Regions from separate parts of the Homo sapiens genome. Here region 2 is linked to region 1. The links come from fine-mapping of genetic effects on gene expression. Tissue or cell type: whole blood. Region 1 holds a variant in brackets; the other region holds the start of a gene. All regions are shown on one strand. Distances are from middle to middle.

The links.
Region 2: it holds the start of FCHSD1, and the variant in region 1 is fine-mapped to the expression of FCHSD1 in whole blood (TOPMed, PIP 0.91).

The regions. Positions count from the first base shown.
Region 1 is chr5:141,682,912-141,687,206 of GRCh38, forward strand. No RefSeq gene overlaps it. Among named protein-coding and RNA genes, the nearest start is that of ARAP3, 2.8 kb to the left of the region's middle. The variant T/C (reference allele first, on the strand shown) is at 2,149.
Region 2 is chr5:141,649,279-141,653,762 of GRCh38, forward strand. FCHSD1 (FCH and double SH3 domains 1) reads right to left here and starts at 2,140. Exons shown (of 20, transcript NM_033449.3): 1 at 2,070-2,140; 2 at 1,742-1,839; 3 at 1,081-1,126; 4 at 609-676; 5 at 117-258; 6 at 1-30. The coding sequence starts at 2,090. ARAP3 (ArfGAP with RhoGAP domain, ankyrin repeat and PH domain 3) reads right to left here. Exons shown (of 33, transcript NM_022481.6): 33 at 4,124-4,484. RefSeq lists an enhancer at 162-740.

The sequences.
Region 1 (4,295 bases):
ATGGGAGAAGCCGCCCCTTCTCCCCAACTCCCACCCTAAAATTTCAGGGGGGATGCCGGGGAGGCCTGAAGAGGAATGGCCCTTCTCTCCTTCGCTAATCTTGCCGGAACCCCGGTCCTGGAGCCTGTCTCCCAGGGGCGGAGGCACTTCCCTCTCTGAGCAGGACCAGTGTTTGGGTGTGGGGGGGGGGTGTTTGTGTGTGTGTGTGTGTGTGTGTGTGTGTGTGTGTGTGTGTGTGTGTGTGTGTATGTGTTGGGGGTGGCGGGGGCGCTGGCCGGCTGTGTTTTCCTGTTTGTATGAGAGGAAGTTGGCTGTGAGTCAGCAGACACAGGAACTGTCAGTAGCTAGGGGAAGACCCCTGCCTCAGGGGAAGAAGAGGGGAGTGGGAGGAAGTGGTTCCCACCTCTTCCAGCTGCCTCAGCTAGGGGAGGGACTGTCATCTTCAACCTACTGGAGCCCCACTTTCCCGGCCTTCCCTTTGAGAAAGAGAATTATAGTAATAAAATAATAATTGCAATAGCCATAATAAGGGCTACCAATTATTGAGAGCTGACCGTGCTCCAGGATCTATGTAAACATTGCTTTGCAAACTTTAATCCTCACAAATATCCCTACAAATAGGAAATTTTATCACCTCTATTTTACATATAAGGAGACAGGGAGCATTAAATAACTTGCTCAAGACTCTGCAGCTAGAAAATAGCCAACCCTCCAAGTCTATATCTATAACTACCATGCTCACCTACCACCCTGGACAGGACCCCTGCACCATGTCCTTTTTTTCAGATGGGCAACTGTGGTGGCAGTGAGAATGCTCCTCACAGATCTTACACTGTGAGGAGTGAAATTAACCAATGGCCCCAGCTGCTTCTCTCTGAAATCTAAGGCCAGCTTCCCACTGGGCTGCTCCCAGCCAGTGACAGAGCTCAGCAGAGATCTAAGGCAGACCCATTCCTGGGAGATAGGGGACTCCTTTGACAGCTGACTTTGGATCAAGATTTCCCAATGGCTTTGCTGAACTTTCCTTTGACTGGTGTTTTAGGATGCTCCTCTCAACCTTTATTCCTTCCCTCTCTCCTTCACAGCTCTCCTAGCTCCAGGCTCCCTTCCTCTCTCACAGGCATCTCCCCTAGTCAAATCCTTGCATTCTGCCTTGGCAGCTTCTTCTTTAAGGACTCAGACTAACCCAGCAAAATAAGGGAGCAGGAAAAGACAGTAAAGGGCACAGGGAGTTTTGAGGAATGGATGCCGGGGAGTTTGGGTCAGGGGCTAGATGCAAGAGTTCTGAACCTTTTTGTGCCATGTTCTCCTTTGGCAATACGGTAAAGTATGTGGTCTCATCTCAGAATAATATTTTAAAATGCATAAAATAAAATATATAGGATTGCAAAGGAAACCAATTATGTTGTAATACACATATAAAACCGATGTGATATAGTAATATATGTGCTTCTTTATTAATGCTTTAAATAAGATCTAGTGGTAGGTTGATACCTCACATAACTTTGATGCAGTGATGAGCATAAATGGTATTTCAAAAGATCTGCAATATTGTAATATGATATAAAAATATATGTGATTTCTACTGGTGACAAAGCCATAGTTATGGCTAAAATGACTGGTTTGTTGCTATTGTCATAATTGGAGGAAATGTTAAATTTCAGCTAGAGATTAGTGAAAGTAATATTCTTTTCCCATCCAAGTCCACTGACTCCAAGTTAAGGACACCAATGCCAGATGATGGGGCAGAGCCACAGAGAGGGAGACCTGGCTTCCTCCCTCAGACCCCACTTCCCTTCTTTGGCTCAATGATATGGGGCAGGTGGAGGCTTCTGGCCCCTGGCTTGTGTCTTCCTGAGTTCAAGCAATTCTCGTGCCTCAGCCTTGTGCCTCAGCCTCCCGAGTAGCTGGGATTACAGGTGCCTGCCACTACACCCAGCTAATTTTTGTATTTTAGTAGAGACAGGGTTTCACCATGTTGGCCAGGCTGGTCTCAAACTCCTGTCAGGTGATCCATCCACCTCAGCCTCCCAAAGTGCTGGGATTACAGGCGTGAGCCACCATGCCCGGCCGAAATTAGTAAATCTTAAATCTTAATCTTAACACATAGGACAAAAGGGACACTAGTGAGCAGAGGAAGAGGAAGAA[T/C]GAAGCAATGAGGAGATGTGGAAGGGAATTCTTCAATAGCCCCTTCCATGTCTCGATTTGTTCCCCACTCAAATGATAGACTATTAAGCCACAATCACTTTGGAGGCCACTTTGTTCACCAAAAGTGGATGGTATGCAGTAATTAAGAACAAGGTCTCTCGGCTAGGCACTGTGGCTCACACCTGTAATCCCAGCATTTTGGGAGGCCAAGGCAGGAGGATTGTTTGAGAGCAGGAGTTTGAGGCCAGCCTGGGCAACATAGCAAGACCTCGTCTCTACTAAAAATTTTAAAATTAGCCAAGTGTGGTAGTGTGCACCTGTAGTCCCAGCTACTCAGGAGGTGGAGGTGGGAGGATTGCTTGAGCCAGGAGGTGGAGATTGCAGTGAGCCGAGATCGTACCACTGCACTCCAGCTTGGGTGACAGTGAGGCCTGTCTCTAAAAACAAAACAAAACACCACCACCAACAACAACAAAAACTAAAACAAAAGGTCAACAAAAAAACAGTCTCTAAAATAAAGCCCTGATGCCACCTCTACCAGCTGTGACCTGAGCAGATTATTCATCTCTATTTTGCCCTGTGTGCCTCAGTTTCCTTTTCTGAAAAAAGGAGAGAGAATAGTGCCTGACAGGGTTGTAAAGATTAATCTATGGAAATATATGGGTAATATGTGGAAAGGACCTGACATTCAATGAGTGCTCAAAGTGTTTCCTGTTCCTTGTTCCTATTTTTGCCAGTTACTTCCATGATAACTCTGGTATGCACCCAGCTTGCCTGTTTCTTCATCACTCTGGCATATCCCGTTACCTATTTTAATCAATCAGCCTGTGGCATCCTATTGCCAAATTAGACCACATTGTACCCCTTGTATTTTCCCCAGGGTCCCCAGTTGTCATCTTGTCTGTTCCATCACTTTTGTAACTCAATTTCCTGTCACCCCTGCAACTCCTGATCGCCTCCATGGTCTCCAGTGGCCTCCAGGTCACACTCCTTTCCTGCCCTTACCCTCTGGATGGTAAAAGGCACAGCCATCACCCACATTTGGTCCTGATGAGATGGGACAGGGCCTAGGGGGATGCCAAGGTGCAAGTTTCTTTTTATTTATTTATTTTTTTGAGACAGAGTCTCCCTCTGTCGCCCAGGTTGGAGTGGAGTGGTGCGATCTCGTATGACTGTAGACTCCGCCTCCCAGATTCAAGCGATTCTCCTGCCTCAGCCTCCCTAGTAGCTGGGATTACAGGCGCCCACCACCACATCCGGCTAATTTTTGTGGTTTTTTTTAGTAGAGACGCAGTTTCACCATGTTGGCGGGGCTGGTCTTGAACTCCTGACCTCAGGTGATCCGCCTGCCTTGGCCTCCCAAAGTGCTGGGATTACAGGCGTGAGCCACTGCGCCCGGCCGAGCATGTTTCTTACAGGAAGGAAGACTCCCATTCAATCCTTTCATTTATTTCTCATGTTTTTATTAATCATCTTTTCTGGACCAACCACTGCTCAAGGGTTTAGAGATGCAATGACGTGCTCAGCAGACTTTAGGGAACATGACCTGCTCAAGAAGTGAGACATTTATCAAACAACCCCCAAATAAATGTGTAATTACAAACCAAGATGAATTTTCTGAAGGGAAGCACTGTAAGAGCATATAACAGAGGCAGCTGACCTGGCCTGGGGGTCTGGGAGGCTTCTGCAGGGAGCTCTGCTTAAGTTGAGATCTCAGAAAGATGGGTAGGAGTTAAGCGGGATGGGAGGGAGTGTTCTAGGCAGAAGAACCACGAGTGCAAAGGCCCTGAGGTAGGAGTCAGCCTGGTGAGGAAGGGAGACAGATCAAAGAGACAGGGAGTTTGGGACCAGCTGAGACTGAAAGGATCTCAGGGGCCAGGCCATGCAGGCCCTTGGAGGGCTTGTATGAGATTTGGTCTCCATGCCAGGAGCCATGGGGAGCCAGGGAAGAGTTTAAGCATGGGGCAATAGACTCATGAATTTAGGTTTGAATTTTAGGAAGATGGCTGCATGGAGACTGGTTAGGGTCAGCACAGCCCTCCCTACCCCTAATTCCTCTGGCCTGAGGGCTGTGCCATTTCCCCCTAGACTCCAGAGCTACCCTCCAGGGAGCCCCTTCCCACTTCCCTCCTCACATTTTTGTGAGG
Region 2 (4,484 bases), 34 kb before region 1:
AGCCTGCGCCCTCTGGAGGTTCTCTGTTCCCTATTGGGATGCATACACAAAGTCCTTACCTAGACCACCTTTGGTCCCAAGCCAGCTCTTCCTTCACCCCAACCTCTGAGCCATACCTTCCTAAGCACCTGCTCCTTGGCGCTCCGCCCTGTACCCCCTGCTAGGTCACGGTATCGGTCAGACGCCTGGAGTCGGGTTTGGCCCCCAGCCACGGTGGCATCCAGCAGGCAGCGCCAGGCACCGAACACTGTCCTGCCCCTCCCCAGAGAAGGTCTGTGTTGAGGAGGAGAGCACTCCACAGCTTCATGAGACCACCCCCACCCCCTGCCCCCTGACCAACACCATGGGAGACAGAGTGCTTTCCCATCCTCCCTTGTCTGGGAGCCCATCAATCGATCAGCCCATTAGCTCAGCCACAAGCCTCACTCCTGCCCTCCACCCCACCCACAGTGTCCTTGCTGGGTCAGCTCCTCTGCTGCTGCTGTGTCAGCTCTACCTACAGCTCACGTGCCTTCCCCACTTGCTAGGCCTTCATCCCCACAGGTTCCTGGGGCTGAGCTCCCCATCACTTTTTGGCCTCTGTGGCCCTCCCCCTCCATAGGGCCCACCTGCTGTCCATCTCACCGCTCCGGTGCCCTTCCCTCTTCAGGAATGGGCCAGCCAGTTTCTGGAGTGCCTGGTGAAAAAGCCATCACAGAACCAAGTTCCCTTTCAAAGACCCACCCCAACTGGCAGAATATGACATCAGAGTATAATCATACCATTCTTTGGGTACATTATGTGCCACTTGCTTTGCTAAATGCCTTATAGTCATTAATTTGTTTAATCCTTACAACAACCCTACATGAAGGTAAGGTATTATTATTATTCCCATTTCACAGAGAAAGAAACTGAGGTCAAGAAAGGTTAAGTAACTTGTCCAAGGTCACATGGCTATAATTACACAGCAGGGATCTGACACCAGTCTGCTTGACTCTAGGCATCTGCTCTTGACCACAATAGGGATAGGTATGGACAGACATTACTGGTGATATAAGAGAGGCTGGAACAAGAGGTAAGGTCCAGAGAAAAGTCCCATACCTGCCCATACTCCCGTTCAATGGCTGCCCTCTGCTTGCTGTAGGATCTGCGGAGATTGCAGGTCGGGGGTGAGGTGGGGGATAAGGTTATGTTTGGTCCTGTTCTCCCATCCTCAGTCCTCTACTCTGGGCAGGAGGGAGCGGTTGGGGGGAGCCAGGTTCCTAGAGTGTAACTACACCCAGAGGGAATGGGACTGATGGGAGTCCTTGAGATCACCTCGGGCAGCTGCAACACAGGAAACCCTCACCTTACTGCCCCGGGCCCCAGCAGGATCCTCCCCACCCCAGAGGTTCATCTGTAGGCTTAGAGGTGAAGACTGATGGGGGCCTGGGTACGATGTCTGCCAGCCTTCCAACAGGTCTGGAAGAGGGAGAGGGATTCTGCCCTAAGGTTGATTGTGGGGTTGGGGGCAGTGGTGTGGAGTCAAGGGCTTTGAGGGAGGGTTCCTGTGTGTTTATGTGGGTGGGAGGGGGTTGGGAGGGGTTAGGTGGGGGAGCATTCCTATCCAGTATCTGGAGAGGCCAGGCCTAGGGTGAGGGCTGTGGATGGGTCGGCTGGGGAGCTCTTGGCCCCTGTTCCTCCACCCCAGCACATGTATATTGGGGAGAAGTGGCGCACAACGACGAAGGTGAGTGTAAATGAAGGGGGTTGGGGGAGCTACCTGATGTCCTCCAGCAGATCCGCCTCCCTCTGCTGCCAGGTCTGAAGGATGCTCAGCTGTTCCAGGAAGCGAAGCTTCACCTCCTGGGCCGGCTTCACCTGTGGGGGCAAAGAGAGGATGAAGACCCCAGCGCAAGGACCTAAAAAACACTCCGCGCAGGGAGCGGTGAGGGGGCGGGGCCGGGGGGGTGCTGAGCTCTTTCCTCTGTTACTTCTGGTTTGGGGTCTGACCCCTTCCGACTTCCCGTCTCCTACCACAAGTCGGATGCCCCCTTAGCTCCCTCCGTTCCCCCAGCCCGCCAGGAGTCCCCATTCAGGGCCAAGCTCACTTTTCGGGGCGGCGGCTGCATCTCCGCTCCAGCAAGGCGGTCAGCCACTGGACTCCGGAACTGGAGGAAGCCCCGCCCACTATGGAGCCCCGCCCCAGGCCAGGTCAGGCCCCGCCCTCTGCCCGCCCACGACTTGTCCGGCGACGTCGCAGGGCGCGGAAGCGAGAGGGGGCCACCGAGAAACTAAACCTGTTACTGCTGCGAATACGCCGGCAGGGTCCGGGTGGCGGGGCGGGCGGGGCGGACGCAGCGTCCGCTGGGCGGTGGGAAGAACCCCAGGCATCTGAGTCAAGACGCCTAAGTTCTATTTGTAGTGTAACCACTGATTCAGCCTGTAATTATTGATAATTATTCATTTGCATATGTAGATCCCCAGTCCCCGAGCTAATGATGAGGAATGGAGAGGAATTCAGTGTGTGACCAGGGAAACTGAGTCACTGGGCACCTGAGCAAAGATGCATCTGACGAAGAGAGGGCTGGTCCCAGACCTTTTCCTAATTCCCGCTTAACTGGAAAAGCCAGCGTGAGCGGGGTGAGAAAGATGCCTGGATCCAGGAAGGAACCAGGCCCAAAGGGAAAAAGACTTGGCCCCACTGAAAACTAAACGATACCAGTGAGTCGGCGAGAGCTGGGAGATGCGCAGGAAGCCCCTGCCACCTTTAGGATCTTCCAGCCCTAGCACTGCTTCCTGAGGAGCCTCTCCCCAATTCCTCATCCTCCTCACCTAAGCTTCTTTGGCTCAGGCACCTGTCCCAGTACCCCTGACATGTCTCAAAACTCCAGATTCACATTCCAACTCCCCACTGACACCTCTGCTAGTATATCTAATAGGAACCTCAACTTTTAAAGCTTTTAAACCTCCTTCAACCTGATCCTCCCCCCGTAACGTTTTAAATGGCACCGCATTTCCTCCAGTCAGTTAAGTCAGAAACCCAGAGTCAATGTGCCTTCTCCTACCCCTACATTCTATCCATCAGTAAGTCCTACAGGTTCTATTTCAAACAACAATAAACAAACAAAAACCTCTTGATCCACTTCCCTCAATTTCCAAGACCACCATCCTAGTCCAAGCCCCCATTATTAGACTTCTGGTCTAATATCTGATCTCCTTGCTTCCACACTGCCCTCACCCCAACCCACTGTTCACACAGCACTCAGAGTGATCAACCTTTTTTTTCTTTTTTAAAGGGAAATAAGATCTCATAATTTACTTGCTTAAAATGCACTTGCTTCAGAATAAAATCCAAATAGAATCCATGGCCTTCAAGGCTACGCATGGAAGACCCTGCTGGTCTTTCTTACTTCAGCCTGTACTCTCCTCCCACTGTCTGCTCACTGTGCTCCAGCCTCTTTGCTGTTCCCTCAGTAGACCAAGTCCCTTCCAATGCAGAGTTCTTCATGCCTGCTTTCTTTCTCCAGAATCTCCTCCTTCCAGCGTTCCATCTGTCGCCTCCAACAGCTTCTTTCCCTTACTTTGCAACTCTTCACAGATGCCTTCCCCATCCACCCATCCAAAGACCATCTCCACAATCACTCTTTTTTTTTTGAGATGGAGTCTTGCTCTGTTGCCAGGCTGGAGTGCAATGGTGCAATCTCGGCTCACTGCAACCTCCACCTACCAGGTTCAAGTGATTCTTCTGCTTCAGCCTCCCGAGTAGCTGGGATTACAAGCACGTGCCACCACAACCAGCTAATTTTGTATTTTTAGTAGAGACAGGGTTTCACCATCTTTGCCAGGATGGTCTCAAACTCCTGACCTCAGGTAATCCATCCCCCTCAGCCTCCCAAAGTGCTGGGATTACAGGTGTGAGCCACTGCGCCTGGCCTCCACAATCACTCTTCAAGCTCATCACTTTGGTTCAGTTTCTTCACAGCACTAAACTCACTTGTTCAAGTACTGGTTTATGTGTTTATTTGCTATTTTCTGTTCCCCTCCACAACGGAGGATTCATAAGAGCAGGGGCCCTGTTTGTTTTGTTCATGCTATATCCCCAGACCTGGCACCAATTAGGTGCACAATACATATTTGTTGAATGAATGAATGAGAATGGTAGTCTTTTGGTTCCCAGGTTTATTGACAATTACTCATCTATTTTTGACTCCCCGAGTCCCAGCTCCCAAACTCGCTCTCCCTACTCCAGGCTTCACGGTAGTCCCAGAATGTAGGAAGTGGGACAGGATAGACTTTAACATCACCCAGGCCTCTGGTTTCCAAAGCATTTTTTTTCTTTAATGCAGTAAAACCATTCCTTTAAAACCCAAAATCTCTCATGGAACCCCTACGTATCAAATATATAAAGCAGGAGCTGCCCTTGTTCAGGGATAATATGTGGGGCTTATGGCTCTAAGAAACACAGTTTGACATTCACTGCTCTCCTTACTTCAGTTACCTCATGGTATAGATAAATGGGCTGG